5 separate regions of the Homo sapiens genome follow, and regions 1, 3, 4 and 5 are each linked to region 2. Evidence: fine-mapped expression QTL. A gene starts in region 2. Each other region holds a variant in brackets. All regions are shown on one strand. Distances are between the middles of the regions. Region 1 overlaps VWCE (von Willebrand factor C and EGF domains). Region 2 holds the start of VWCE (von Willebrand factor C and EGF domains). Region 3 has its middle 24 kb from the start of SDHAF2. Region 4 overlaps VWCE (von Willebrand factor C and EGF domains). Region 5 overlaps LOC124902678 (a long non-coding RNA gene).

The links. PIP is the estimated chance that this variant, and not a neighbour inherited with it, causes the effect. A credible set is the group of variants that fine-mapping cannot tell apart.
Region 1: its variant is the best candidate, but not a certain one, in a credible set for the expression of VWCE in whole blood (TOPMed, PIP 0.59).
Region 3: its variant is the best candidate, but not a certain one, in a credible set for the expression of VWCE in whole blood (TOPMed, PIP 0.87).
Region 4: its variant is the best candidate, but not a certain one, in a credible set for the expression of VWCE in whole blood (TOPMed, PIP 0.52).
Region 5: its variant is the best candidate, but not a certain one, in a credible set for the expression of VWCE in thyroid (GTEx, PIP 0.61).

What each region holds. Positions count from the first base shown.
Region 1 is chr11:61,267,024-61,273,072 of GRCh38, reverse strand. VWCE (von Willebrand factor C and EGF domains) reads left to right here. Exons shown (of 20, transcript NM_152718.2): 14 at 1,313-1,398; 15 at 4,055-4,151; 16 at 5,529-5,611. Among named protein-coding and RNA genes, the nearest start is that of VWCE, 25 kb to the left of the region's middle. RefSeq lists an enhancer at 5,558-6,049. The variant G/A (reference allele first, on the strand shown) is at 2,692.
Region 2 is chr11:61,291,663-61,297,711 of GRCh38, reverse strand. It overlaps VWCE (von Willebrand factor C and EGF domains), which reads left to right and starts at 2,396. Exons shown (of 20, transcript NM_152718.2): 1 at 2,396-2,784. The coding sequence starts at 2,675. RefSeq lists silencers at 2,317-2,386, 2,567-2,876, 3,317-3,576 and an enhancer at 2,643-3,345.
Region 3 is chr11:61,451,547-61,457,595 of GRCh38, reverse strand. No RefSeq gene overlaps it. Among named protein-coding and RNA genes, the nearest start is that of SDHAF2, 24 kb to the right of the region's middle. The variant C/T (reference allele first, on the strand shown) is at 3,006.
Region 4 is chr11:61,256,662-61,262,710 of GRCh38, reverse strand. VWCE (von Willebrand factor C and EGF domains) reads left to right here. Exons shown (of 20, transcript NM_152718.2): 20 at 3,399-4,425. The coding sequence ends at 4,036. Among named protein-coding and RNA genes, the nearest start is that of PGA5, 19 kb to the right of the region's middle. The variant G/A (reference allele first, on the strand shown) is at 2,773.
Region 5 is chr11:61,191,695-61,197,743 of GRCh38, reverse strand. It overlaps LOC124902678 (a long non-coding RNA gene), which reads right to left. Exons shown (of 4, transcript XR_007062691.1): 3 at 2,213-2,553. Among named protein-coding and RNA genes, the nearest start is that of PGA3, 8.8 kb to the left of the region's middle. RefSeq lists enhancers at 3,244-3,743, 3,744-4,245. The variant C/G (reference allele first, on the strand shown) is at 3,374.

The sequences.
Region 1 (6,049 bases), 25 kb after region 2:
CGTGTGTATGAGTGTGAGTTTTTGTGTAGTGTGTCTGAGTGTGTACCTGTGTGTGTAAGTTTGTGTGTCTCTGAGTTTGTGAGTGGTTATCTGTGTGTTGGTGTGTTAGTGGTACCTGCGTATGTGTGTCTTTGTATTTATGTATATGAGTGTGTGTCTGTGTTTTGTGTAGTATGTCTATGTGTCTCTCTGTGGGTGTGTGTGTATGTGTCTGTGTTTTTGTGTGTGCCTGGGTGAGCATGCATCTTTGTGTCTGTTGTGTCTGCATATGTGTGTGTGCATGTAAGTGTATGTTTGTATGAGTGTGTCTGCGTGAGAGTAAGTTTGTGTGTCTGTGTGTGAGTAGTGTGCGTCTGTGTGAGCATGTATGTGTATGTGTGCATTTGTATGAATGTGTGTAAATTTGTGTACATGTGTCTTTGCCTGTGTACGAGTGTGTATCTGTGTTTTGTGTAGTATGTCTTAGTATGTGCCTGTGTGTGTGTGTTTCTGTGTTTCTGAATAGTTTTCTGTGTGTGTGTGTCAGTGTGTTAATGGTATCTGTGGGAGTCTGTGTACATGTGTCTTTGTGTATGAGCATGTATGTGTATGTTTTGTGTAGTATGAGTGTGTCTCTGTGGTATGTATGTTATGTGTCTGTTTTTGTGTTTTTGTGTGTGCCTGTGTGAGCATGCATGTCTGTATGTGTGTATGTGCATGTAAGTGTATGATTCTATGAGTGTGTCTGTGTGTAAGTTTGTGTCTCTCTGAGTAGTATCTGTGTGTGTGTGTCTGAGCATATGTATGTGTATGTAAGTGTATTTGTATGAGTGTGTGTCTGTGTGAGTTGTATCTGTGTGTGTATGTAAATGTGCATTTGTATGAGTATGTGTGTGTCTGTGTGCATGTGTGTCTGTGTTGTATCTGTGTGTGTATGTAAATGTGCATTTGTATGAGTATGTGTGTGTCTGTGTGCATGTGTGTCTGTGTTGTATCTGTGTGTGTATGCAAATGTACATTTGTATCAGCATGTGTGTCTGTTGTATCTGTGTGTGTATGCAAATGTACATTTGTATCGGTATGTGTATGTCTCTGTGCATGAATGGTATCTGTGTGTACATGTATATTTAAGTGTGCATTTGTATGAGTGTATGTGTATCTGTGTGAATTGTATCTGTGTAAGTGTGCATTTGTATGAGTGTGTGTAAGTTTGTGTGTCCGTGTGTGAGTGATATCGGTGTCTGTGTGTGTTTGTGCGCATGAGGCATCTGTCCTTGCTGCTGTTGTAGTCTAGGTCTTGTGCCGTCTTTTCTCTGCCATTGTCCTCATCCAGGCTGCTCTCTTGACGACAACGGGGTTGAGTTTCCGATTGGACAGATCTGGTCGCCTGGTGACCCCTGTGAGTTATGCATCTGCCAGGTGAATGACAACCTGCTCGCCTTCAGCTGCTTTACCTGGCTGCCCCGCCTCACCCAGAGGAGACAAGCGTCCTGGCCCCTCCAGAGGCTGGCCTCAGGCTGGCCGCAGTCTCCCTCCGGTGCTGTCAAGTTCCACTTTCACAAAAAGGGTTGGACCGAGTTTATCCTGCTCTCAGTAGATGTGTGAGGACGATGGTGCTTGGCAGTTGGCCTTAAGAAGTGTGTATTGTTGGCCAGGTGCGGTGGCTCACGCCTGTAATCCCAGCACTTTGGGAGGCCGAGGTGGGTGGATCACAAGGTCAGGAGATCGAGACCATCCTGGCTAACATGGTGAAACCCTGTCTCTACTAAAAATACAAAATATTAGCCGAGCGTGGTGGTAGGTGCCTGTGGTCCCAGCTACTTGGGAGGCTGAGGCAGGAGAATCGTTTGAACCCGGGAGGAGGAGGTTGCAGTGAGCTGAGATCACGCCACTGCACCCCAGCCTGGCGACAAAGCAAGAAGGAGTCTCAAAAAAAAAGAAAAAAAAAGTGTGTATGGCCAAGAGTGGTGGCTCACGCCTATAATCCCAACATAGCTGAGGTGGGAAGATTGCTTGAGCCCAGGAATTTGAGACCAGCCTGGGCAACATGGTGAGACCCTGTCTCTACAAAAAAATACAAAAATTAGCTGCATGTAGTGACATGCCCCTGTGGTCCCAGCTACTTGGGAGGCTAAGGTGGGAGGATCGCTTCCTCAGCTCCTGAGGCTGACCCAGGAGGTCGAGGCTGCAGTGAGCCGTGATCACATCACTGCATTCCAGCCTGGGCAGAAGAGAAAGATCCTGTTTCAAAAAAAAAAAAAAAAAAAAGTGTGTGTAACACAGTGTGCATGTGCAGGGAGCTGCTGGCATGAGGAGTAAGAATTAGGAATCTTCATAGAAGGTTTTCCCCAGGCATGGATAACTGAGGGAGTGGGGTAGCCTGAGACCCAGTTGTTCAGGCTGTTTCTGTGAAATTGCAATGTTTTCTTCATGACTGCAAAACATGTGACCTCACCATTTCAGAAATGAGTAAGGAGGTGCATGAGTTTGAGTCAGATCAACAACAATGCAAACACAGCTATCCACCCAGAAATACAATTGTTTTAGCTCATTATTGAAGTACTAGTAATTGCAGTTTTTTACCATTACTTACAATGGCAGAAACCGCAATTACTTTTGCACCAATCTAATACATGCTGGCTTTCCTTTCTACTTTAAGAGCTTCGAGTCTTTTAGAGGTTTATTTCTCAAAATGAGGTCCCTTGCACCTGC[G/A]TTGGGAGCCCTGGTTAGACGTGCAGCCTTTCGAGGCCCTGCCCACACCTCTGCTCTCACAAACTGCATTTTAACCTCCAGGTGATTTGTGTGCACTTTCATGTGGGAGAAGCCCAGCCTTCTAGTGCCTTCGATGAGCCGTTTGTTAAAAAGCTGTAAGCTGGGCCGGGCGCGGTGGCTCACGCCTGTAATCCCAACGCTTTGGGAGGCCGAGGCAGGTGGATCATGAGGTCAGGAGATTGAGACCATCCTGGCTAACATGGTGAAACCCTGTCTCTACTAAAAATACAAAAAAAATTAGCTGGGCGTGGTGGCGGGCACCTGTAATCCCAGCTACTCGGGAGGCTGAGGCAGGAGAATGGCGTGAACCCGGGAGGCGGAGCTTGCAGTGAGTCAAGATAGAGCCACTGCACTCCAGTCTGGGCAAAAGAGTGAGACTCCGTCTCAAAAAAAAAAAAAAAAAATGCTGTAAGCTGAACACGTCTCATTGAAATTAGAGTTGGGAGGAAAGTCCTTCCTGTGCTGTCTTCTCCTTTATGACTGATTTCGGGCACCCATAATCAGTCACCAAGAGAGTGATACAAAAGGTTCAAACTGTCAGATTGTTTTTGTGTTTTTTTCTTTTAAAGAAAAAGAGGCCGGTTGCGGTGGCTCACACCTGTAATCCCAGCACTTTGGGAGGCCAAGGCAGGTGGATCATCTGAGGTCAGGAGTTCAAGACGAGCCTGACCAACATGGTGAAACCCCATCTCTACTAAATATACAAAAATTAGCCTGGCGTGGTGGCGCATGCTTGTAATCCCAGCTACTCGGGAGGCTGAGGCAGGAGAACCATTTAAGCCCGGGAGGTGGAGTTTGCAGTGAGCCAAGATTGCGCCATTGCACTCCAGCCTGGCAATAGAGTGAGACTCCGTCTTAAAAAGAAAAAAAAAAAAAGAAAGAAACCTTGTATGGCACTTTGGCTCTCTGAAATAGACACTTCTGGTGGCATTGTTTTTTCTAAAAATAGGGTTTTATGGTACTCTGTAGGTTCCTGGTGAGCCAGGGTTCCAGGGAAAAGCTGAGAAAGGATTTGGATGGTGGTGACGGTGCAGGCTTTGGCTGCTACAGGAAGCGGAGGAGACCAGAATCCCAACCCTGACCTTCCTTCTCCTTAAAGATGCATAGACTTCCTGGAAGGCTCACATGGCCTTTCTCAAGTAGCCGATCCTCTTTAGGGGAGACCTGCCATCTTCCAGCCGCGTCATGTTGCCTTTCAGGGCAAGCCTTGGCCAGTTTGCAGCGTTGCTGTTTCTTTTGCAGGGCGGGGAGGCAGGGGCCGGTGTCACCGGTGGGGTCTTGGTGAAGTTCCTCCTTCCTCCAGGCAGATGGCTCGGTGAGCTGCAAGAGGACAGACTGTGTGGACTCCTGCCCTCACCCGATCCGGATCCCTGGACAGTGCTGCCCAGACTGTTCAGCAGGTAATCCCCTGCCTCTGCCCCAAGCCCCCAGGGCAGGGCATCTCAGGCATCGGGCTCCTTAAGCCCTATACAGCCTTCATCTCATGTCGTCCTAACAACCCCAAGGGACAACCCCATTGCACAGATAAGGAAACTGAGGTAGAACAGTTTACCCAAGTCAGGCCCCCTCTGAGTGCTCGAGGCAGATCTGAAGACACGCAGGGCTTACGGTGCAGGTGGGTGGTACAGGAGCTGCACCTGTGAGACAATTGGAGAACAGCAGGAGGAGAGAAGTTTTAACAGTCATTTTTGCCTTTTAATAGTCATTTTTACCTTTTCCATGATTTCAGAAGTAATGTTTTATTATAGAAAATTTATCTTATTTTTTTGAGACAGAGCCTTGCTCTCTTACCCAGGCCGGAGTGCAGTGGCGTGATCTCAGCTCACTGCAACCTCCACCTCCCGGGTTCAAGTGATTCTCCTGCCTCAGCCTTCTGAGTAGCTGGGATCACAGGTGCCCACCACCATGCCTGGCTAATTTTTGTATTTTTAGTAGAGATGGGGTTTCACCATGTTGGCCAGGCTGGTCTCGATCTCCTAACCTCAGGTGATCTGCCTGCCTTGGCCTCCCAAAGTGCTGGGATTACAGGCATGAGCCAATGCACCCAGCTCCATTATAGAAAATTTAGAAAAAAAGTACAGAAAGCAAAAATAAAGAATATTAGCAAGGACCTATTAGCACTGTTAAATTTGTGTTTATGTCCTTCTAGTCTCTTTTTGTGATGCTCACACACATTTAGTAGATGTACATTATATATATAATATATATATAAACATACATATATTTATTTATTTTATTTTATTTTTTTAAAGCTTCCCCTACTGTCTCATCACCTGCTTTTACACTTAGCAGTATATGATAGTATCATCCAAGGTGGCATCACTCACATCAGGCTTCTGGGGCTGTCAGGAATCAGAGAGGGGAGTAGTGTTGGGGAATGTTCTGGACAGGCGGGGTTGGTGGTTTGAGTGAGTTTGGAGGGCAGAGAGGAGGTTGGGAAGATGCTGTGGGGCCTCACACACACCTCGTATTTCCCAGTTCTTCCACCTGATCCCCCCTGGTGAGGAGGTAGAGGATGAATCTCCCCACTCTTCAGGGTGAGGACACTGAGGCCAAGACACTTGATCCTTTTGCTGAATCCAGTGGGAAAAAAGTCAATACCCGATTCAGACAATCCAAACAGGCGTTTTGTCCCTTCCCTAACTCCCAGGGTGACTGCCTGGGGAGGCACATGGCCTCCCCTTTGCCATCCAGATAAGCCTGTGACCTTGGCCCTGGCGGGAAGCCTGGTGCCTGGCCACTCCCAGCTGGTGCTCAGCGCATGCTCTCTCTGGCAGGCTGCACCTACACAGGCAGAATCTTCTATAACAACGAGACCTTCCCGTCTGTGCTGGACCCATGTCTGAGCTGCATCTGCCTGGTATGGACCACCCAGATCTGACTCCCGCCCCTGGAAACTCCCCCACAACTGACATCGGCTCCTGAATCCCAGAGGCAAAATCCAGAGACCTCCAAGACAAGGGATGCTTCTGGTTCATGGTGGAAGTCAGCTCCCTCCAGTCCTGCCCAGGGTGACCCTTTAGACAGGGCCAGAGAAATTTTTTTTGTTTGTTTTTGAGATGGAGCCTTGTTCTGTCACCCAGGCTCCCAGGTTGGAGTGCAGTGGTGTGATCTTGGCTCACTGCAACCTCCGCTTCCCGAGTTCAAGCGATTCTCCTGTGTCAGCCTCCCAAGTAGCTGGGACCACAGGCATGCACCACCACGCCTGGCTAATTTTTGTATTTTTGGTAGAGACGGGATTTCGCCATGTTGGCCAGGCCGTTCCTGAACTCCTGACCTCAGGTGATCTGCCCACCTC
Region 2 (6,049 bases):
AAAAACAAAAACCAAACTAAAGGGGAAAATGTTGATAGGAGCAAGGTGAATGCCATAAGGTCACAGAAACTTTATGGGGAAATGAAAGAAATGCCAGGGGCAGTTTGGACGTTGTTTGGAGATTCACTAACAGGAATTTACTGTGTACTAAGTATCCTAAATTCCTTAGGGTAGATGTGGGTTTTCTTCAAGCACAAAGTTGCATCTCAGCTATTCCAGCTGCTCATTGGCCAATATGGAGCAAACTCTGCCAGGGAGTGAGTTTTACAGGGTGAGGTGGAGCAGGTGGGGCTCCATAATGTAGCTAAGAACAGAGGTAGCTGAGGTGTGCTGGAGTGTGAGAAGATGGCATGAAATATGGAAGCCATGTGGACACTTGTTCTGTGTATGCCTGTTGAAAATTTGGGTAGCTCCCCTAGGGCCAGGAAAAAAGAGCACCTATTTGACATTGGTGGTTTAGGGGCAGTGGAGGGGGAAAGTGTAACCTTCAGATGTTTGGGGCAAGAGAGAAAGATGCCTTAGGATTCCGAGGGTCCTTGGGACTCAGAATGGATATGACGGAAATTGCATTCATCTTATGTTACAGAATATTTTGGCTCCTACTTGTTGAGAATATGTTGACAAGAAAATGGGCCAAAACAAACAAGGTGAGATACGGCCTCAAGGTGAATGTCTGCAAAAATGTAGCCACAAGCCGGGTGCGGTGGCTCACGCCTGTAATCCCAGCACTTTGGGAGGCTGACGTGGGTGGATCATTTGAGGTCAGGAGTTCAAGACCAGCCTGGTCAACATGGTGAAACCCCGTCCCTACTAAAAATACAAAAATTACCTGGGCATGGTGATGTGCGCCTGTAGTCCCAGCTACTCGGGAGGCTGAGGAAGGGGAATTGCTTGAACCCGGGAGATGGAGGTTGCAGTGAGCCGAAATCGTGCCACTGCATTCCAGCCTGGGCGACAGAGAAAGACTCCATCTAAAAAAAAAAAAAAAAAAATGGGGCCACACAGCTTCAGGTAGGGAGACCACTTGGCAGCTTGTGTTTAAATAACATAAAAGCACAACAAAAAATGCCTGCTTTTTTTCGTTCTTTTTTTTTTTTGAGATGGAGCCTTGCTCTGTCGCCCAGGCTGGAGTGCAATGGTGCAATCTTGGCTCACTGCAACCTCTGCCTCCTGGGTTCAAGTGATTCTCCTGCCTCAACCTGAGTAGCTGGGAATACAGGCGCCCGCCACCATGCCCAGCTAATTTTTGTATTTTTAGTAGAGATGGGGCGTCACCATATTGGCTAGGCTGGTTCTGGAACTCCTGACCTCAGGTGATCCGCCCACCTCAGCCTCCCAAAGTGCTGGGATTACAGGTGTGAGCCACCGCGCCCGGCCACCTGTGGTTTTTCTTTACTGCAAACTCAATGTGTCATAATTAACATCATGGGGTTGCCAAAAACGTAATATTAGGGTGCATTAGTAAAAGTATGGTGTCTGCAGGAAGGAGGCACGAGTCCAGGCCACCGCTGGTACGCCATGTCCATTTGTGGCCACCAATGTTAAGCACCTCAGTAAAGGCAGAGGTAGCAGGAAGGCCAAAGGAACAGGGATTGTTCAACTGGGAAGTGAAGACACTTTAAAACAAATGTGGTTCAAAACTGGATTGGGCCGCTTCTTAACAGATAGTGAGTTTCTTACCCCTGGAAGTATTTAAGCAAAATCTTGACTAATTGTGGGTGGCTAAGGGAAAGATTACTGCATGGAGCAGAAGGTAAAATCAGTTATCCTTTCAGCTTTCTCCCAGCGGGATGATTTTGATTTCCGCACCCCTTCTTTGCCTAAATCCCTAGGCAGCCCCCCAGTCTCTGACCACGGCCTGGGGCAGCTGCAGAAGGGGCAAAGAGGAGCCTTCCAGATCTGCTGCTGCCTCTCCACTGCCAACGGCGCCAGCTGCTTCCTGGTCTTGCCACCAGCAGTCGGGAGGCCGGCCATCTGCCCCCTGGGTGCCCAGAGGAGCCCGGGGCTTCAAAAGTGGCTAGGGCCCCAGGCCAGGGAGCGGTTGGACCCACAGATCAACGCACTCCGGCGTTAGGGTGCAGACCTTCTGGCAGGCTGGGGGCAGGCCTAGAACTGCTCAGCGGCACAGCGACCTGGCGTCGTGGGTTCGAATTTCCACGGTTCCCACCTCGTCACAACAAGGCGTCTCGGGTCCCACCGACAGGGGCCATGCCCGGGGCGCGCAGCCTCTGGTGCTAGCCTTGTTCCCGAAGTCTGTTTCCTCCCGGGGCCTCGGTCTGACGCCTTCAGTCAGCGCTTCGCAGGAAGCCGACTCCCAAACCGGGGCAGGGGGTGTGGGCCGAGGGCGAAACCCCGCCCCCAGGGGTCCCTGATCTTTGCCCCCGCCCCGGGCTCCGCGCCTCTCGGAGAGGCATCAGCAGGCGGGCGGCGTTGCCTTTGTGTGTTTCGCTTCGAGGTGCCAGAGACCCTCCCCACAATCGTCCGCCGCGTCCCCTCGCGGCCCTCGGCCCCTCCTCTCGGCGTCCCAAGCCCCCCTGCTCAGCTCTGCGTGCCATTTCGGGGATCGCTGGTTCGCTCCCCACGGCGCCAGGAGGAGGGGCGAGGGCCGGCAGCCCCCTCTCCCGCGCGCGGCGCAGGAGCCGAGCCCAGCCCGGGGGACCCGCCGCCGCCGGTCATGTGGGCCGGACTGCTCCTTCGGGCCGCCTGTGTCGCGCTCCTGCTGCCGGGGGCACCAGCCCGAGGCTACACCGGGAGGAAGCCGCCCGGGCACTTCGCGGCCGAGAGGTAAGCGCCCGGAGCTCCTCCCCGCTCCCCCGCCCGGGAGAGCGCTACCGGCGTGCAGTCGAGAGGCGCGGAGGGGCGCTCAGGAGCCGCAGGCAGCCGCGTGTCGGGGCTTCCTCTGGGGTGCTATCAGCGCGGGCACAGCTCGGGGACGGCACAAAGAGTCAGCAACTTGTGCCTCTAGGCGGGTGCTCATCGTGCCCCCCTGGCTGGGGCTGTCCAGACTGGGACCTGGGAGATCGGAGGTCCAGGCGTTGGGTGACTCCTAATGTGCCCTGGAGCGCGGACCTCTGGAGAGGGGAGCCCAGGACGTGCCATCTGGTCTCCGGACTGGCTGGCTCACCCCCCAGCGTGCCCGTGGCTCTGCCCGGGCAGCGCCTGGCCTCCCCTGCCGCGCGGGGCTTTCCCTGGGTCTTGGCCCTACGAACTTCATGGACCTTGGAACAGCCGGGGTCTCTGGGTCACTTTTCGTTTTCTGTCCGTGCGTGTGCGCGCGTGGGGGTGGGGTGCATGCCCCTCCGCTGTCTTTCGCGATGGATGCCGCCCTCCGCACGTGCTTTCCCCCGGGCCGCGGTGGGGCCGTGCGCGTGTGTGCGTGATGCTCGGAGCTAGGGAACACTGTGTCAGCAGGCGGCCTGGCCCGCGGCCACGTCCTCCGGGGGGCGCGCAGCGGGGGCGGCCCGGCCAGGCTTGTAGCTCACACGTGTGTTCCACAGCCACCGCCAGTTCCTGCTCAGAACCTGCCCCGACTCCCCGGCGTTCCACAGGCTCCCACCACCTGTCCCTCTGTCACCAGCCCTAGGAGGCTCCTTAGGGCGCTCTGGCGGGTGCTCGGTCCCTGCCCACCTGAGAGTTCGACTCCATCAGCCTCCCTGGGCACCCTTTTATCTGCCGCCTTGGTGGCACTGCCTGTCCGTTTCTGAGAGTCCCAAGGCTCCGCTCATTCGCCCGGTCCCCTCCTTCTCAGGCTGCTGCCATAATCACTCCAGCAAGGGGGTGGATGAGACTTCACTGCCAGCTCCCGCCAGCAGGAGGGCCCCCCCTTTCTTCTGTGATGACCTCAGAGAGGGAAAAAGGCCCCAGGGACAGCTTTCCTCAGACTTTTGTGTGCTGCCATTGCACCCTGAGCTTCCCTTTCCGGAATACTTGTCACATTTTGGCACAGATTTTTCTCCCCAAGAACACGCTAAGTTTGCCTTGTCCCATGTCCCCAGTGCCCAGCGCAGAGTGGGTGCTTTACAAAGTGCCTGCCTCGCAGAATCATCTTCCCTCCGCTCTGAACATTGGTGGAACACCATTGGGAAGGGGTTTCTTGTCCCTTTTCTGTTGCGGTGGGGTTGGAAGCTCAAACCAGGCTGGATTTCATCACCCTCTGTCCAGTCCATGACTGGAGCTGGTTGCAGTTGTCCTCTCTGTCCCCCTCCAGGCCTGCAGTTGTGCTGTTTCCCCTGCTAGAACACCCTCTCCCTTCCTCTTCTTTTGCTGGCTGCCCTACTTTTTTTTTTTTTTTTTTTGAGACAGAATCTTATTCTGTCACCCAGGCTGGAGTGCAGTGGTGCGATCTCGGCTCACTGCAGCCTCTGCCTTCTGGGTTCAAGCGATTCTCATGCCTCAGCCTCTCGAGCAGCTGGGACAACAGGCACATGCCACCACACCTGGCTAATTTTTTTTTTTTTTTTTTTTTTTTTTGAGATGGAGTTTTGCTCTTGTTGCCCAGGCTGGAGTGCAGTGGCGTGATCTCAGCTCACCGCAACCTCCGCCTCCCAGGTTCAAGCAATTCTCCTACCTCACCCTCCCAAGTAGCTGGGATTACAGGCATGCGCCACCATGCCCGGCTAATTTTGCATTTTTAGTAGAGTCGGGGTTTCTCCATGTTGGTCAGGCTGGTCTCAAACTCCTGACCTCGGGTGATCCGCCCGCCTTGGCCTCCCAAAGTGCTGGGATTACAAGCGTGAGCCACCGCGCCCGGCCTGTATTTTTTTTTTAGTGGAGACAGGGTTTTGCCATGTTGGCCAGGCTGGTCTCAAACTCCTGACCTCAAGTTATCTGCCTGCCTTGGCCTCCCAAAGTTTTCTCTCTCACCTCAGCCTAGATGCTGCCCTTCCAGGAACCCCCCCTGACCCTCCTCAGGGCTCCACAGTCTGTCCCACTGTGGCATTTGTCACTCTATGCTGTTATCACCTAGCTCCTGGTCTGCCCTACTTTCCTTGAAGGTGGGGGCAGTAGTTTGTTTATGGCTGTATGGTCACGCCTTACTCAGCACCCAGCACCAGTTGGATGCATCTGGCTTCCTGCCCTTTCTGGACCTCATTCCTGCTTGAACAGACCCCTACTGCCTCCAGTTTTGGGCAGCTCATTCATGACCCCACACCCACCCAAGAGATGTCACCTATGCCATTGCCCTTCTCAACCTTTCCCTCAACAGCCATTTATTGAGCACCTACTACATGCCAGGCACTCCTGTACGTGCTGGGGTAAATAGATAAGAAACCCTTGTCATCAGGGAGTTGTAGGGGAGACAATGAATTAATAAATTAAAATCTAATGTCACAGGAAGTAAATGTTGTGGAGAATAAAGCAAGGTAAGGGTGGACAAGGAAGGCCTCTCTGAGAAGGTGCCATGGGCAGAGATCTGGGTGAAGGGAGAGAGGAAGCCCAGTGTGTGTCTGAGGAAGAATCTTTCTCTCTCTCTTTTTTTTTTTTTTGTTTTGAGACGGTCTGGCTCTGTCACTTAGGCTGAAGGGCAGTGGCGCCAACTTGGCTCGCTGCAACCTCTGCCTCACAGGCTCAAGCCATTCTCCCACCTCAGCCTCCCGAGTAGCTGACCCTACAGGTGTGTGTCACCATGCCCAGCTAGTTTTTGTGTTTTTAGTAGAAACGAGGTTTCACCATGTTGCCCAGGCTGGTCTCAAACTCCTGGGCTCAAAATGATCAGCCTGCTTCGGCTTCCCAAAGTGCTGGGATTACAGGCGTGAGCCACCACACCCAGCCATAAGAACCTTTCTTATAGCAGGAACTGCAAGTGCAAAGGTCCTGAGGCAGCCACCCCTGGGGCTCCTCATCTATTGCACAGCCTTTCTTCAACTCTGAGGCCCCTCTCCTGGCCACTCTGCTGTGTGTTCACGTGGCAGATATCTGTAGGAGGCCAGTATCTATTGTCTCACACTTTTGTCTCTGTCTTGCCTCCAGGAGAAGACTGTTTGGGTCATTTTTCTTTGGAAACTTCCCATTGCCCCTCCAGACAGTTCTTGAGAATTGTTTGTTGATT
Region 3 (6,049 bases), 160 kb before region 2:
ACACTTGGCTAATTTTTAACATTTTTTTTTTGTAGAGCTGGGGTCTCATGTTGTCCAGACTGGTCTCCAACTCCTGCCTTAGCCTCCCAAAGCTAATTACAGGTGTGAGATGCTGTGCCTGGCCTGATTTTCTTAATAGTATTTCTTTTCTCTAGCTAACTCTAAGAATACAGTATATAATACATATAACATAAAATACATGTTAATCGACTATGTTCTCAGTAAGGCTTCTGGTCAATAGTAGGCTATTAGTAAAGTTTTTGGAGAATCAAAAGGTATATGCAGATTTTCGACTATGCAGGGGTTGGCGCCCCAACTCCTGTGTTGTTCAAGGGTTAACTGCACACTCATTTGGGAGCTGCAGGCAAAGAACAGATTTGAGGGAATGCCAGATGATGAAGGCAGATCAGATGGCCATACCCATTGTCCATCAGAGAGATGAGAGTAGCTTTCACCACAGTGATGGTGCTAGAGATGGGAAGAAGTGATGGATTCAAGAACTATTTTGAAGCTAAGTCAACAGGCCTTGGATGATGGCCATGGAGGGAGAAGGAGCAGCTTAGGACAATTCCCAGCTTGAGCAACTGGATGACTGGTGATGCCATTCACTGAGGCTCTCAAGATGAGGGAGTTTTTGGTGAGTAGAACAGGGAGGGAGGGTAGCCTGGCTGAGTTTGAAGGGTTTTTCAGCCTCCTTCAAAGGAGGAGTCAAGTTGGCAGTTAGATATGCAAGCTGGAGCTTAGAGGAAGATGTGAGAACTGTCCACACATAGGTGGTGATGGGTACCCCGGTATGGGTGAGATCACTAGAGAGAGTATCCAGAGGAGAGAGGAGGCTCCTAGAAGAGCACTGTGAAGAACTACAAACAGAATGACTGGGAAGAGGACGGCGTGCCTCACAGAGGCAGAAGCATGGCTGGAGAGGCAGAAGGAAACAGAATCATGAAAATCAAGGGAAGGGGAGGTGTCCATAATTGGTTAGAGGCAAAGATAAAACTTCAATAAAGCCTGTTGGATTAGCAACATGGAAGTCACAGGTGACTTTAGTGAGAGATGCTTTCATAGCATAACGAGGTGGAAACATGGATAGATTAATATAAAGAATAAGTGAGATTTTAAGAAAGTAGAGACAAGTATAGTCAACCCCTTGAAGAAGCTGGATTACAAAGGGGAGGAAAGGAAAAGAAGAGTCAGCCGAGCGCGGTGGCTCACGCCTGTAATCCCAGCACTTTAGAAGGCCAAGGCAGGTGGATCACTTGAGGTCAGGAGTTTGAGACCAGCCTGGCCAACATGGTGAAACCCCGTCTCTACTAAAAATACAAAAATTAGCTGGGCGTGGTGGCACACGCCTGTAGTCCCAGCTACTCAGGAGGCTGGGGCAGGAAAATCGCTTGAACCCAGGAGGCGGAGGTTGCAGTGAGCCAAGATTGCACCACTGCACTCCAACCTGGGCAACACAGTGAGACTCTGTCTCAAAAAAAAAAAAAAAAAAAAAAAAGAAAGAAAGAAAAAGGAGAGTCACTGGACTTGACAAAGAAGCCAGGGCTTGGGAGTAGGATTGAGCCGAGTGGGACAGATGAGCATACAGGAGGCAGGCTGCTACTGACAGTGCAGAGCAAGGTAAGGGCAGAAGCCAAAGTTCCTGTGTCACAGAAGAATGGGTGTGCAGATGTGGGAAGGCAAGGGAGCTCCTCTCTGAGGGCTTCAATGTCCTCTGATGGAAGTCAGTGAGGTCGTCTGAGAATGGAGAGAAGGAAAAGTCACAGGTTTGAGTAATGGGTGGGAGGTTTGACCCAGTCATTGTGGAACATGAAAGAGCAGATTGGCCAAAGACATACAGCATGTGCAAAGGCCCTGCAGCAGGAGGAATTCTGCAAAGGGTGAGGTTGAAAGACTGACCATCTTAGAGGCTGGAGCACAGAAACTGAGTGCCTGGCCAAGATGAGGTCTGATATACTGAGATGTGCCAGCGATATCCTATGAGCCTGCTACACTGAGAGGTGCTAGGTGCTAATCAGGATCGAATAGACAATGATGAGGAAATGAATAAAGCATGAAATCCCCCTTGACTTAACACAGTAAAGGCTTCTCATTCACAAGCAGTTTGCAAGAGATTAGGTGGCCCTCCTCCTTCGTGTGCCACATTGTCTGGACGTGTGGTCTCTGGGATGTCTGCAGCAGGGTAACAGTGGGCTGCAACCACTCAAGATGTTTCCAAGGGCCAGGCCTGGAAGTGGCTTTCATTGCTTTCACTCACACTCTCTCTGCCGGACTCAGTCGCATAGCACCAGCCTTGTTATCAGGGCAGCTCCTTCTTTTTTTTTTTGAAACGGAGTCTCGCTCTGTTGCCCAGGCTGGAGTGCAGTGGCACGATCTCAGCTCACTGCAACCTCTGCCTCCCGGGTTCAAGCAATTCTCCTGCCTCAGCCTCCCGAGTAGCTGGGATTACAGGCGTCCACCACCACATGTGGCTAATTTTTTACATTTTTGGTAGAGACGGGGTTTCACCATGTTGGCCGGGCTAGTCTAGAACTCCTGACCTCAAGTGATCTGTCCGCCTCGGCCTCCCAAAGTGCTGGGATTACAGATATTAGCCACCGCACCTGGCCCGGAGAGTCTGCTTCCCACATGCTCAGGGCATTTCCTGGATGCTATAGGAAATGGTCTTTCTATATGCTCAGGGAGATCAAATGGTGTGGCGGGTGGATACCATCATCTCTGCCACGATCCACCGTTCTGTTTGCCAAACCAAGTTTTTCTTTTCACTCAGGGAACACACCCTCTTCCCAAGGGACCCAAAGTCCTATCTAGTCCCGATATCTGGCTCAAAGCCCAGGGTCTCTGGTGATGTGCAGTAGTCACTTCTCATCCAATGTGGCTCTTCTCAGTCCAGTAAGCCATGACCAAAAAGACAAGCAAGTTGCTCCCCTAACCCTGTGCCACACAGTGGTGGAGCAGGGACAGGACTCAGGGGTACCCGTTCATTACACCCCGGTGCTGCTTGC[C/T]GGGAGACACTCTCCTTATCCACTCTCCACATTGGCCCTGGCTCTTCTCTCTGGGAGATTCCTCCTTTTCCATCATCCTCTCTGGCTACAGCTGAAATGAGAGTGGCAGAGCCTGCCCTCTCTGGGGGCTGAGCACCGTCCCTCCTGCTCATGGATGATTGGAGGCCCAAAGGTTGTTTTATAGCTGGAACTGTCCAAAGGGCTGGCTCCCGGTTCCTTGGCAATACAATTCTTTACATAGTTAGTGTCTAACCTACTTGCCCTGGTCAGCTTTGTGGGCCAGTGGCCACGCTCACGCACGTGCCAAGTCTTTTCCTAGATCCAGTTCTTAGGTCTAATATGTTTTGCCTGTTCATCCTCCATGTCTCTCCCTTTCTACTCAATGGCTAGCTTGAGGCTATTTGGAACAATAAATAGGAGGCCCACCTTTAACCTGATGCTTGTCCTGAGTAACTGCATCCAAGAGAAAAGTTTTACCAGGCTTTTCTTGCCCAGATGAGTCTTATATCTCATCTCTTCCTATTTGGGGTGTAGCAGATTTTCCAACCCTGAAAGACCGTGGGTTTCTGTACTTTATTTCCTTTCATTACTGCTCAAACACCAGGTAATCCTCGCCTGAGCTCATCCCTTCCTTATAAATCCTCAACAAATACAGCCTACAGTAGCCAAGAGAGATGACAAGTTTTCTGCTTTCCAACTGCGTTGCCTTTGGCTGTCAGCCTGGAAAGCACATGGGATACCCTCCCAAGCTACAGTGGGCTGTAGTTTTATCAAACATTTTGCTAATGCATAACACAGACCTCCAACTTTCCAAGGGTCCTATATCAGTTTGTTTGCTAAGTGCTAAGCCACTGTCACCATAGGTGAGTAACTCAGTCCCTCTGGGCCTGTTTCCTCTTTGGCAAAATGAAGACAACAATACAAGCAACTTCATCAGACTGCTATGGAATTCAGCAGGACAAGCCATGTATGGTGTTAGCCTAATGTCTGCTCTGGAATAAGTGCTCAGTAAATGTTATTGCTGCTGTTCAAATAGATCAGTAGGAATCATGTGTGTTCATAGGCGATTGCTATACTAAGTTCACAAGAATCTGATCTATACTAAGCAGCTGCCTTTTTAAAAATTCAAGGGCCGGGCACGGTGGCCCACGCCTGTAATCCCAGCACTTTGAGAGGCCGAAGCGGGTGGTAAAGTCAGGAGTTTGAGACCAGCCTGGCCAACATGGTGACACCCCATCTCTATTAAAAATACAAAAATTAGCCGGGCGTGGAGGTGCATGCCTGTAATCCCAGCTACTCAGGAGGCTGAGGCCGGAGAATCACTTGAATCCATGAGGCAGAGGTTGCAGTGAGCCGAGATCACACCATTGCACTCTAGCCTGGGCAATAAACAGAGCAGACTCCATCTCAAAAAACAAAACAAAACAAAACAAAAAAACAAATGAGAGATTGACCCATCCAAGGGACAGGATGCTCATTCATGCTGGCCAGTCAGTGATTTTTCTCCCTATAAAGCAAATCTACATGGACAAGCCCTGTTGCCATCTGTATCTGTTATCAATTGCTACAATAATGCTGCATAACAAATGACCCCAAAACTTGATAACTTAAAATAATAAGCATTTCCTTAGCTTAAAAGTCTGCGGGTTCACAATTTGGACTGGGCTTGGCCGGGTAATTCTTCTGGTCTTGACTGGGCTCACTTAACTGTCAGCTGACTTTGGCTGAGGCAACTGGGGTGACTGGGACACACATCTCATCCTCCAGAAGTCTACCATGGGCAGGTTCTCACGTGGTGGCAGGGGTACAAGAGCTAAAGGGGAAGTGCTTTCTAAGGCTGTGCTTGCTTCACAATGACTGATATCTCATTGACCAAAGCAATGAGTTGACCCCAGCGTCTGGGCAGAAAGCCCTAAAAGCTACATGGCAAACAGCATGGACACAGGGTAAGAATCTACCAGACAGACCTGGCTCAGTGGCTCATGCCTGTAATCCCAGTGCTTTGGGAGGCTGAGGTGAGAGGATCGCTTGAAGCCAGGAGTTCCAGACCAGTCTGGGCAACACAGCAAGACCCTGTCTCTACAAAACTTTTTTTTTTTTTTTTGAGACGGAGTCTCTCGCCCAGGCTGGAGTGCAATGGTATGATCTCGGCTCACTACAACCCCCGCCTCCCGGGTTCAAGGGATTCTCCTGCCTCAGCCTCCTGAGTAGCTGGGATTACAGGCACGTGCCACCACGCCCGGCTAATTTTTTGTATCTTTAGTAAAGACGGGGGTTTCACCATGTTGTCCAGGCTGGTTCGAACTACTGACCTCTTGATCTGCCCACCCCGGCCTCCCAAAGTGCTGGGATTACAGGCGTGAGCCACTGCACCTGGCCCAAAATAAACTTTTTTTAAAAAATTAGCTGGGTGTGGTGGCATGCGCCTGTAGTCCCAGCTTCTCAGGAGGCTGAGACAGGAGAATGCCTCGAGCCCAAGAGTCAATCACACCACTGCACCCCAGCCTGGGTGGCAGAGTGAGACCCTGTCTCTATAAAAAGGAAATCTACCAGACAATCGTAACTGATTGCTGAGGGTGAATTCAGAACAAAAGAAGTTATTTCTATATTAAAAGTAGGTGTCTCAGAGCTCAGTGGCCTGGTGTCCTCATCCCTGCTGTGAGGATAGACCTGGCATACAAGGCTAGATGTCCTGCTGCCTGCTCTCACAGGGTCAGTGCCTGAGGCCCATAGACAGATCCTTTCGTGCCTTCCATTCACTTATCCCTTCTTCAGAGGACCTCTGCGGCACGAGCTCCATCTCATTGATCTCCGCGTCTTCTGTGTCTGGCACTGGGTGTAGCACATTGTGCTATGCTAGTGCAGACAACTTCTGCTTGGCAATCAATGAAATAAAGCACCAAGAACAGTGAGCTCCTCAAGGACAGACAAGATGCATTCTTCTCTATCCCCAGCATTTAGTGAAGACCATGACAGTGTTTTTCCAATTAGCTTTCTCTTTTTTTTTTTTTTTTGAGACGCAGTTTCACTCGTTGCCCAGGCTG
Region 4 (6,049 bases), 35 kb after region 2:
ATGTTCTGTTTTCGGGGGCAGCTCTTCAGATCTGTGGATGATGAGCTTTTAGGGCGGGTGGCGCCAGGAATATCCATTGAGCCTTCAAATCCATCATGTTGGGGACATTATAGATTGTACTTCATTGTAACCACCACAAACCTCTCTGCATGCTAGTGGATATTAGTCCCCTGACTGTCTAGAGACTGATTGCTAGCTAATGTGCCAGGCAGCATACTGAGCATTTTATACCTTATTTAAATGTATTACCTCATTTAAATGTTCATGGAGTGTTCCAGCGTGGCTGCTATGTTATCTCCATTTTGCAGGTGGGGAAATGGAGGCTCAAAGAAGTTAAGTTTCTAGTTGGTGTGTAAGACTTAAGCCTAGGTCTCTCTTATTTCCTATCCTGTCCTCTTTCCCACCGTGCCCTCCTACCTCCACCTGGGGAAACTGAGACCCAAAGAGGTGACCTCCAGGTCTGGCGTGGTGGCTCACGCCTGTAATCCCAGCACTTTGGGAGGCTGATGTGGGTGGATCGCCTGAGGCCAGGAGTTTGAGACCAGCCTGTCCAACATGGTGAAACCCTGTCTCTACTAAAAATAGAAAAATTAGCCGGGCATGTTGGTGCACACCTGTAATCTCAGCTATTTGGGAGGCTGAGGCAGGAGAATTGCTTGAACCTGGGAGATGGAGGTTGCAGTGAGCTGAGACTGCGCCCTGCCCTCCAGCCTGGGCAACAGAGCAAGACTCTGTCTCAAACAAAAACAAAAACCAAGAGGTAACCTCCAGAGCCCAGCTCCTTCTCCTGAAGCACACTATGTTTACCACCTACCTCTTATTAACAAGAGCTCCCTTTAAGGAAAAACAACTTTTTATTGAAGTAGAATATGAATTGCTTTCTTTTGATGATTTTTTTTTTTTTTTGAGACAGGGTCTCACTCTGTTGCCCAGGCTGGAGTGCAGTGGTGCGATCACAGCTCACTGCAGCCTCGACCCCTGGGCTCAAGCAATCCTCCTACTTCAGTCTCACAGGTAGCTGGGACTACAGGTGCATGCCACCCTGCCTGGCTAATTTTTTGTTTCTATTTTTGTTTTATTTCCAAGCCCATGAAGTGATAAACACTTGGTTAATTTTTTTACTTTTTTTTTTTTAGAGACAAGGTCTTGCTATGTTGCCCAGGCTGGTCCCAACTCCTGGACTCAAGCAATCGTCCCGCCTTGGCCTCCCAAACTGTTGAGATTACAGGCATGAGCCACTGAGCCCAGCCTCTTTTGATGATTTTTTTAAAAGTATAACAGCTTTCTAAAGATAAAGTTCATATGTCATACAATTCACACATTTAAAGTGTATGATTCAGTCATTTTAAGCATATTTTTAGAGTTACGCAACCATCTATTAATATGAATAGTTGATTTTTAAAATATAATCATTCCAGTTTTTTATGTGCTTGACAACGTCTGATTTTTCCTTGATCATACCTTCGATACTCTTTCTTCTTTTTTTTTTTTGAGATGGAGTCTCTCTCTGTTGTCCAGGCTGGAGTGCAGTGGCATGATCTTGGCTCACTGCAACCTCCACCTCCCGGTTTCCAGCAACTCTCCTGCCTCAGCCTACCAAGTGGCTGGACTACAGGCACCACCATACCTTGCTAATTTTTGTATTTTTAGTAGAGATGGAGTTTCACCATGTTGGCCAGGATGGTCTCAAGCTCCTGACCTCAAGTGATCTGTCCACCATGGCCTCCCAAAATGCTGGGATTATGGGCATGAGCCACTGCGCCTGGGCCGATACTTTTTCTTTTTTTGCTTCTTCACTCTTCATTTTCTTTTTGCTGAGCTTCTTCCTTCTTTCACAGATGATTCCTGACTTTCTGGTGGTTTATCTTAATGATTTTTTGACTTTACAATGATGTGAAACCATCAAAATTTTGCTGTATTTTGTATTTTGAATTTTGATCTTTTCCTGGGTTATCAATATGTGACACATGGATATTCAGCACTTTATTAAAAAATAGGGATTTACTTAGATGATTTTGCCCAACTGTGGGCCAGTATAAGGGTTCTGAACACGTGTAAGGTCAGCCAGGGTAAGCTGTGGTGTTCAGGAAGTGAGCTGTATTAAATGCATTTTTGCTGGGCACCGTGGATCACACTTATAACCCCGGCACTTTGGGAGGCTAAGGCAGGAGGATCACTTGAGCTCAGGAGTTTGAGACCAGCCTGGGTAACAAAGTAGGATCCTGTCTCTACAAAAATAAAATAGAACAGAACAGAACAGAACAGAACAGAATGCCAGGTGTGGTAGCATGTGACTGTGGCCCCAGCAAGTAGGACAGCCGAGATGGGAGGATCGCTTGAGCCCAGGAGGTTGAGGGTACAGTGAGCCATGTTTGCACCACTGCACTCCAGCCTGGACAAGTGAGTGAGAACCTGTCCCCCCCACCCCAAAAAAAAGCCTTTTTTTAAATTTTGGTGAAACGGAGTCCTGCTCTGTCTCCCAGGCTGGAGTGCAGTGGCACGATCTCAGCTCACTGCAACCTCTGCCACCTGGGTTCAAGTGATTCTCGCGCCTCAGCCTCCCGAGTAGCTGGGACTACAGGCACGCGCCACCACGTCCGGTTAAGTTTTGTATTTTTAGTAGAGATGGGGTTTCACCATGTTGACCAGGCTGGTTTTGAACTCCTGACCTCAGGTGATCCGCCGCCTCGGCTTCTCAAAGTGTTGGGATTACAGGCGTGAGCCACTGCGCTTGGTCAGAAATGCATTTTTGATTTACAGGTTTATTGGGAC[G/A]TGACCCCATCGTAAGTCAAGGAGCATCTGTGTTTATTTTCTCCTTGTGTACTGAGCCTTTATGATATGCCAGGCCCTAGGCTGAGACTTTTTAAAAAATTCTTCAAAGAAACTATTTTTTAGAGCAGTTTGATGATCATGGCAAAATTGAGTGGAAAGTACAGAGAGTTCCCATATGCCTCAGACTCCACATGATACAGCGTTGCCCCCTATTAGCACCCCATACCAGCGTGGCATGTTTGTTATAATCGGTGATCCTACACTGACACTGACATGTCATTGACATCCAATGTCTATAGTTCACATTGAGGTTTAGGCTGAGACTCTCCGTGCACCCTTTCATTCACACTCAGTCCTTACTGCTGTGCCCATTTTACAGATGAGGAAACAGAGGCCCAGGAGAGTTGCATGCCTTGCGTGAGGTCACACAGCTAACTGCCTGCCTCCCTCCGTTCATGGCTCCTTCAGTCTTCCCTTCCTGGAGGCAGGAGCTGGCTGGTCCTCACCAGGTGTGCTGAGGCCCCTCTGAGGACAGAGCTTGGGTGTCCCTGGTATACCTTGTCCCAGAGCCACCTTGGCCACTGGAGAGAGCCATTGTGCATCTCGTTTCACCCTCGTCTCTCTAGATTCCCTGTCTCCTCTGGAAGAAAAGCAGGGGCTCTCCCCTCACGGAAATGTGGCATTCAGCAAAGCTGGTCGGAGCCTGCATGGAGACACTGAGGCCCCTGTCAACTGTAGCTCCTGTCCTGGGCCCCCGACAGCATCACCCTCGAGGCCGGTGCTTCATCTCCTCCAGCTCCTTTTAAGAACGAACTTGATGAAAACACAGACTTTACCTACAAGCCCGGCAGGAGCTCATGGTCCACACTCACTCGCTTTGGGGCTGACAGCCACTTTCCCAGGGGAGCCTGGGGCCTCCCCTCGACTCTCACCAGGGCCTTCGACCCCTCCAGGAGCCCCCACTCTACCTCTAGCTTCCCCAGGGGCTCCTCAGCCACCTCCTGTGACTCCAGAGCGCTCGTTCTCAGCCTCTGGGGCCCAGATAGTGTCCAGGTGGCCTCCTCTGCCTGGCACCCTCCTGACGGAAGCTTCAGCACTTTCCATGATGGACCCCAGCCCCTCGAAGACCCCCATCACCCTCCTCGGGCCTCGCGTGCTTTCTCCCACCACCTCTAGACTCTCCACAGCCCTTGCAGCCACCACCCACCCTGGCCCCCAGCAGCCCCCAGTGGGGGCTTCTCGGGGGGAAGAGTCCACCATGTAAGGAGGTCACTGTGTCCGGGAGACTCTGGAGAGAGGACCTCTGCCAGTGGCCCAGGGTGTGTGCAGGGCAGCTCCAAGGATGAACCTGGTGGGGATGCCTGGGCTCCCTCCTGCAGGGGCCCTGGTGAGGATGGAAGACCCCCAAGGCTGGATGTAACCTTGTTCCCAAGAAGTGTTTGGAATGTGCTGTAAGAATGGAGGAAGTCGTTTCCACTGTCAGCATCCTCCCTGGACCGCGTGGCTGGCTCATCTTTTGAGAAGGGTTGGGACTGCCAAGTTCTCCTGGAGGAAGAGTTGCGTCCGGCTGGGATTCCACTCACTGGGACTGTACCGCCAGGTGTCATGCGTCTCTCTGAGGTTTCCTGATTAAAGGTTGTCTCGGTTTCCCCATGCTGCACTGCTCATTCACCGCTTACCTGTGGGAAGGTGGGAAACGTGACCCCAAGCCCACAGGTGGTAAGTGAGCATCCACCTTTACCCCACTGCTGGGGAGAAAAGCTGGCACCAAATTGTGACTGGGCTGGGGAAGGGTCTCCTGTAAGCACTTGGCGGCCTTTTATATTGGGAGACTTCTTTTTATTTTTTTCCCCAAGATCATGATTTTCTTTTCTGTTTTCTTTTTTCTTTTTTTCACTTTTATTTTAAGTTCAGGGGTACATGTGCAGGTTTATTATATAGTTAAACTCGTGTCACAGGGGTTTGTCATACAGATTATATTATTTCATCACCCAGGGATTAAGCTTAGTACCCATTAGTTATTTTTCCTAAGTCTCTCCCTCTACCCTCCCTCCACCCTTCCATAGACCCCAGTGTGTGCTTTTCGTGTCTATGTGTCCATGTGTTCTCATCATTTAGCTCCCACTTACAAATGAGAACATGCGGTATTTGGTTTTCTCTTCCTGCGTAACTTTGCTAAGGATGATGGCCTCCAGCTCCATTCATGTTCCTGCAAAGGACATTATCTCATTCTTTTTTATGGCTGCATAGTATGTACACCATGGAATACCATACAGACACTGGGGGGCTTCCACAGTGAGAAGGGAAAAGATGATGGAGAGGACTTGCTTCTGGGAAGGAACCTCTGAGACGAAATGACAGACCAGCAGTTTCTTTTTTGAGATGGAGTTTCGCTCTTGTTGCCCAGGCTAGAGTGCAATGGCAAGGTCTTGGCTCACTGCAACCTCTGCCTCCTGGGTTCAAGCGGCTCTCCTGCCTCAGCCTCCTGAGTATCTGGGATTACAGGTGCCCGCCACCACACCTGACTAATTTTTTGTATTTTTAGTAGAGTTGGGGTTTCACCATGTTGGCTAGGCTGGTCTCGAACTCCTGACCTCAGGTGATCTGCCCACCTTGGGCTCCCAGAGTGCTGGGATGACAGGCCTGAGCCACCGCGCCGGGCCGGGCCAGCAGTTTCTTAAGACGTGTTTTCAGCAGGAACACCTGTGGGCAGCGGGGAAGGAGCAGGGAGGGAGAGTTGGGGCTGCTGGGCCTTCTCGAAGCCTCAGCCAGCCCCCTCTGGGAGCTCTGGGGTTAGGCTGGCCCTTCGGAGCTGTCCTGAGCTGGAGCTACGGGGCAGGGCTTTCTGCCTCATATTGACCAGAGAGCTGCTATCAACCACCTTCCCAGCAGCTGGGAGACTGATCCTTCAGTCCTAGTGGGGGGATCTGGGCAGTGTAGCACAGTGTGCATGAGAGACGGAAAGAGGACAGTGCCGTCATGAATGGGGGGATGCGGATTTGTGATAAGGGAAGTGATGTGGGGCTGGAAAGCAGAAGCTGCTCTGTCACCAAGTCACCACTTGCTACCATTTTTTTTTTTTTGAGACAGGATGTTGCCCTGTCATCCAGGCTGGAGTGTAGTGGCATGATCACGGCTCATTGCAGCCTCAACCTCATGGGCTCAAGCCTTCCTCCCACCCCAGCTTCCCGGGTGGGTGGGATTAGAGGCACATGCCACCACGCCTGTCTAACTTTTAAAAAAATTTTGTAGAAATAGGGTCTCGCTGTGTTGCCCA
Region 5 (6,049 bases), 100 kb after region 2:
CGGGACCCCACCCCAGGCTCTTCCCAGTCACTATCCTAGGGCCAAACCAAGCGTATCACTACTCTAATTTCCAAACAGCAAAGATTCATTTCCCTGTTTTTGTACTTTTGCTAAGCAGTACCACATAACAAGCACTTTAGTTTGCATTGTGCTTCTTTGCTCAAAATCATGTTTAGGAGAGGCATCCACGAATGGCGGTGTGTGGAGTTGTTACTCAGTCATTTTCATTGCTGTGTATTATTCCTCTGCATCAATATACCTGTTATTTTCTCTTTTTCAGTTCATAGGCATTTGGGAAGCTTCCAGTGTGGAGTTCTTAGGAACAGTGCTCTATGAACGTTCTCTTATATACACATCTTCTTTCTTCTCCTTTTATTTATTTATTAAAAACAATAGAAATGAAGTCTTGGTATGTTGCTCAGGCTGGTCCTGAACCCTTGGCCTCAAGCAGTCCTTCCGCCTTGGCCTTCCCAAGTGCTGGATTTACACCATGAGCTACTGTGCCTAGCTCTTTTCTTTTTAATTGACATGTAATAATTGTACATATTTATGGGTACATAGGGATGTTTCCGTACACATAATGTTTAGTGATCAGATCAGAGTAATTAGCATATTTATCATCTTGAACATTTATCATTCCTTTGTTTTTTTTGGAGGCAGAATCTCGCTCTGTTGCCCAGACTGAAGTGAAATGGTGCCATCTTGGCTCACTGCAAACTCCACCTCCCGGGTTCAAAAGATTCTCCTGACTCAGCCTCCCGAGTAGCTGGGATTACAGGCACCTGCCACCAAGCCTGGCTAATTTTTGCATTTTTAGTGAGACGGGGTTTCACCATGTTGCCAGGCTGGTCTCGAACCCCTGAACTGTTCCTAGGTGATCCACCCGCCTCGGCCTCCCAAAGTGCTGGGATTACAAGTGTGAGCCACCTCGCCTGGCCTTATCATTCCTTTGTTTTGGGAGCATTCAATATCCTCCCTCCAGATATTTCAAACTATAGAACTTACTATTGCTAGTTACAGTCATTCTAATACACATTCTTTTTTTTTTTTTTTTTTTGAGACAGGGTCTTGCTCTGTCACCCAGGCTAGAGTGTAGAAGCACAATTATGGCTCACCACAGCCTTGACCTCCCAGACTCAAGCAATCCTCCCACCTCAGCCTCTCAAGTAGCTGGTACCACAGGTGTGTGCCACCATGCCTGGCTAATTTTTTTTATTTTTGTGTAGACGGGGTCTCCCTGTGTTGCCCAGGCTGGTCTCAAACTCCTGGGCTCAAGTGATCCACCTGCCTTGGCCTCCCAAGGTCCTGGGATTACAGGCGTGAGCCACTGTGCCCGGCTTCTAATACACATCTTTTAGAGAACATATGTATGTGTTTCTGTTGGGTGTATACTCAGAGTGGAGTGTGTCCTTGAGCAGGAAGGGTGCTGGGGTCTATGGTCCAAGCTCTCAAGGGAGAGTCAGGAAGCAGAGAGGAGGCACTGGGGGCAAGAATTTGCCCAAGCCCTGGGAAGGGAGTAAGAGAGCCGGGAATCTCAACCACAGCCTCCCAACACCAAGCTGCTCGGCCCCCAGAAAGGGTTCTGACACCTGCTTTGGGCAAAATACAAGAGAAGGTCTTGGAGGAGGCAGTGACAGAAATTCGGTACTGGGCAGAGCAAGGGTTAACTGGAAGCAAAAAAGAAAATGTTTGGAAACTGGGAGTGGGCTGGGGGCAGATGGAGGGAGGATGGAGCTATTAAGCAGGAGCTGGAAAATTCCTGGGAACTGGGGCATGACCAGGAAGTTGGCCTGCAGTCTCCAGGCGGGCATGGGGAGATTCTGGGCCAGCCTCCCCAGCCCCTCACAGCCCTGCTCTCCCTCAGAGCACCTGCCTTGAGCTGCGCCTGCCCAGAGCCCCAGTGTAAACCCACTGAAACTGGTGGCCTGGGGTGTGAACCCCTCTTGGGGACAGAGGTTAAGGTCCCCTGATAGTGCGTCCTGCCCCCGACAGCCGCAGCTCTTTTGTCCTCGGTATCTCAAATACCACGTTACTCCCAGGTGTGCACAGCTCTGGACCTGGCCTCCTCAGCCTTTTCTGATCCAATCTGTCCCCATCTACGCCCTGTTCCTTCTAAGGGGTGACCTGAATCCTGGTTTCTGACCTGTGACTCTGCCACCATTGGTGCCAGGGGCAGTAGGCTGGGGGTGTGGCCAGAGGGTATTTAAAGCACCTGTCCTGGGCCTCCTGCTCCAGATGGGAGAGCCAGGGAGCCCAGCTGCCTGCTCCTCCAAAGGACCTGCAGCAGCAGCTTTGAGGGTCTTCGTGCCTTAGCCTGGGGTGGGCGGCAAGGCAGCAGATTCAAGCAGAAGGCTCTGACGTCTTCTTACAGCCTACTCCCTGGCCAAACTGGCCATGCTTATGAGCGCTTTGCCTTGTTCATCTTCTCGTTCATTCACTCATTCATACATTCCACATGCCAGGCAGTAGGCTTGATAGAGATGAATCAGCCATGAGTTTTGTCCTCAGTGGGTTTACATCTGAGTGAGAGAAGTAAGACCCATACCTCAGTCACTGTAATAAAAAGCAGAAAACAGTAGAAATTATTAACTAGGGCAGACACTAAGAAGGGTATAAAAGGGACAGAGTGCTAGTCATTCAAGAAAAGGAGCTTACTTCCAAGGGACATATGGGAGGCCATCGTGGAGGAGGAGGCATTTAAACTGTCTTAGTATCTGGAGGCTGAAATCAGTCCAGGAGTGTGTTCCTCCTTCCTAGGGGAGCATCTCATTTTTACAAAGATCTGGACCTGGGGCAGTGTAGATGTTGAGTGAATGGTTGAGCATTAAGCATCCAGGCTGACTGTCAGGTATGAAGTTTTCATTGCTAGAAAAGGTAGAGAGGAGGGCTGGGCATGGTGGCTCATGCGTGTGATCCCAGCACTTTGGGAGGCCGAGGCGGGCGGATCATGAGGTCAGGAGTTCAAGACCAGCCTGACCAACATGGTAAAACCCCGTCTCTACTAAAAATACAAAAATTATCCAGGCATGGTGGCGCGTGCCTGTAATCCCAGCTACTCAGAGGGCTGAGGCAGGAGAATCGCTTGAACTCGGAAGGCAGAGGTTGCAGTGAGCTGAGATTGCAGCATTGCACTCCAGCCTGGGCAACAGAGCGAGACTTTATCTAAAAAAAAAAAAAAAAAGAAAGAAAGAAAAAAAAAAAAAAAAGGAAAGGTAGAGGAGGCTTCTGGGCCTGGCTGGAGGCTCCAAAACCACGCCACTGTGGAGGAGGAACACAAGCCTCCTGTTTTCGACCTCAGCAAGGGGTGTGCCTGTGTAATCCACGGTGGAGCCTGGAGCCTGCTCCTGTGTCCCAGTCCACGCTCCGGGATGGG[C/G]TCAGGTAAAGCTGTAGGCAGGCCCCGGCCAATGCGTCCTCCGGGGGTGGGGGATGTGGGGCTCAGGTGGGAGGTGTCACAGTTCCCAGTTTCAATGCTGAGAGCTGTGACCTGGGCTGGAACAGCTTGCCTTCCTGCCCTCCTGCCCTGGGCGGTCTGAATTCTCCCACTGGGCTACATCCTCCCCTGCCTCTGAGCCTTGGCACAAGCTGTTCCCTTTGAAAGCGTTTCTCTGTCATTACCTAGAGTGTCAGAATCCTTGTGGAAACAGGTGGCCCACCTAGAGGTTTGAAGAGATTTAGTGAGGGGGTGGGCAAGGGTAAAGGACCCCAAAAGCGATGAGGAGGCACCGGGAGCCAGCAGCAGTGGAAAATCAAAAGGAGCGCAGGGAGGGACTAGCACTGCCAGGACCCAGCTCGAGCTGGGGCTGAAGGTGGAGGGTACTGGAGCCTGGGGGTCAGTCTCTCCGCCTCGGAGCAAGGCAGATCCCGGTGGAAGGCAGGAGAGAGGAGGAGGGGGAGGGCCCTTGCTAATGCTCTCCTTCAGACCCTGCTCCCCCGTACCTTCCTCCCATGTCCTGCTGCCGCCTTGCCCCCCAGCACCCAGCAGATGGTGCGTGACCACCTGCAGTCGACCCTGTGCTCAAGGGGAGGGGCGGGGTCTTATCCTTTTCCTCTGGCACCCACCCCAGTCTGGCACAGAGCCCAGAGATATCAGTATGTAAAAATGGCAAGGAGAGCCGGGCACGGAGGCTCATCCTGTAATCCCAGCACTTTGGGAGGCCAAGGTGGGTGGATTGCTTCAGTCCAGGAGTTCGAGACCAGCCTGGCCAACATGGTGAAACTCTGTTTCTACTAAAAATAGAAAAAATTAGCCAGGCATGGTGGCACACGCCTGTAGTCCCAGCTACTCAGAAGGCTGAGGTGGAGAATCACCTGAGCCCAGAAGGTTGAGACTGCAGTGAGCCATAACTGTGTCACTGCACTCCAGCCTGGGCGACCCGAGTGAAACCCTGTTTCAACAACAACAAAAGAAAATATTTTAAATCTACAGAAAAAGTGCCAGAATAGTGCAACAAATTCCCATATATTTGGGAGGCTGAGGAGGGCAGATCACCTGAGGTCAGGAGTTAGAGACCAGCCTGGCCAACATGGCAAAACCCCATCTCTACTAAAAATACAAAAAAATTAGCCGGGCGTGGTGGTGCATGCTTGTGATCCCAGCTACTAGGGAGGCTGAGGTGGGAGAATGGCTTGAACCTGGGAGGTGGACGTGGCAGTGAGCCAAGATGGCACCACTGCACTCCAGCCTGGGTGACTGAGCGAAACTCCCTCTCCAAAACAAACAAACAAACAAACAAACAAACAAACACCTCCCACAAATTCCCATATATATTTCACTCAGATTCATTATTATTATTATAATTGCTTTTAGATTCACGTATTGACATTTTACTGAATTTATTCTCTTTGTCTCTCTCTCCATACACATGCATACATGCATATTATTATTATTTTGGCTGAATGATTTGAGTCAATTGCAGACATCATGATCCTTTGCTCCTAAATCTTTAGTGTGTGTTTCTAAGGACATTTGCTTACGTGGATGATGTCAAAATGACCACAGGCAGTAAGTCTTACATTGATACGATACTATTATCTAATACACAGCACATATTCAGATTTCACCAGTTGTCCTAAAATTGTCCTTTTTTGTGATTTTTAATTTTCTGTTCCACAACTCAATCCAGGATCGCACATTCTTTTGGGTTCCAGGTCTCCCAGGTGTCCTTTGATCTTGAACAGTCCCTCCCTCTGCCTTTTTCATTCATCACGTTGACACTTTTGAAGAGTATAGGCCAGTTGTTTTGCAGAATGTCCCTCAACTAGGGTTTGTTTGATGTATTCTTTCTTTATTATTATTATTTTTTGAGACTGAGTCTTGCTCTGTTGCCCAGGCTGGAGTGTAATGGCGCAATCTTGGCTCACTGCAACCTCTGCCTCCCCAGTTCAAGCAATTCTCATGCCTCAGCGACCCCAGTCGCTAGGATTACAGGTGCACACCACCACGCCCGGCTAATTTTTTAATTTTTATTTATTTATTTATTTATTCATTTATAGAGATGGAGTTTCACTATTGTCGCCCAGGCTGGAGTGCAATGGAGTGATCTCGGCTCACTGCAACCTCCACCTCCCAGGTTCAAGCAGCTAATTTTTGTATTTTTAGTAGAGACGGGGTTTCACCATATTGTCCAGGCTGGTCTGCCACTCCTGACCTCAGGTGATCTGCCCGCCTCGGCCTCCCAAAGTGCTAGGATTATAGGTGTGAGCCACCGCACCCAGCCTAATTTTTGTATTTTTAGCAGAGCCAGAGTTTCTCCATGTTGGTCAGGCTGGTCTCAAACTCCTGACCTCAAGTGATCTGCCCACCTCAGCCTCCCAAAGTGTTGGGATTATGGGCATGAGCCACCGCACCCGGCCTAGGGGTGACTTTCTAATTCTATCATTTCTTTTACATTTTACATTTTTAATTGGCATTCTTTGGTAAGGAAAAGCTTTTCTTCTTCCTATTTATTTACCTATCTGTTTGTATTTCTTGATCAGTGTGGTGTCATAGATTCCTGCTTTGGTCAGTGAGTTCTAATCCATTATTGCCATTTATTTTCATGCTTAAATT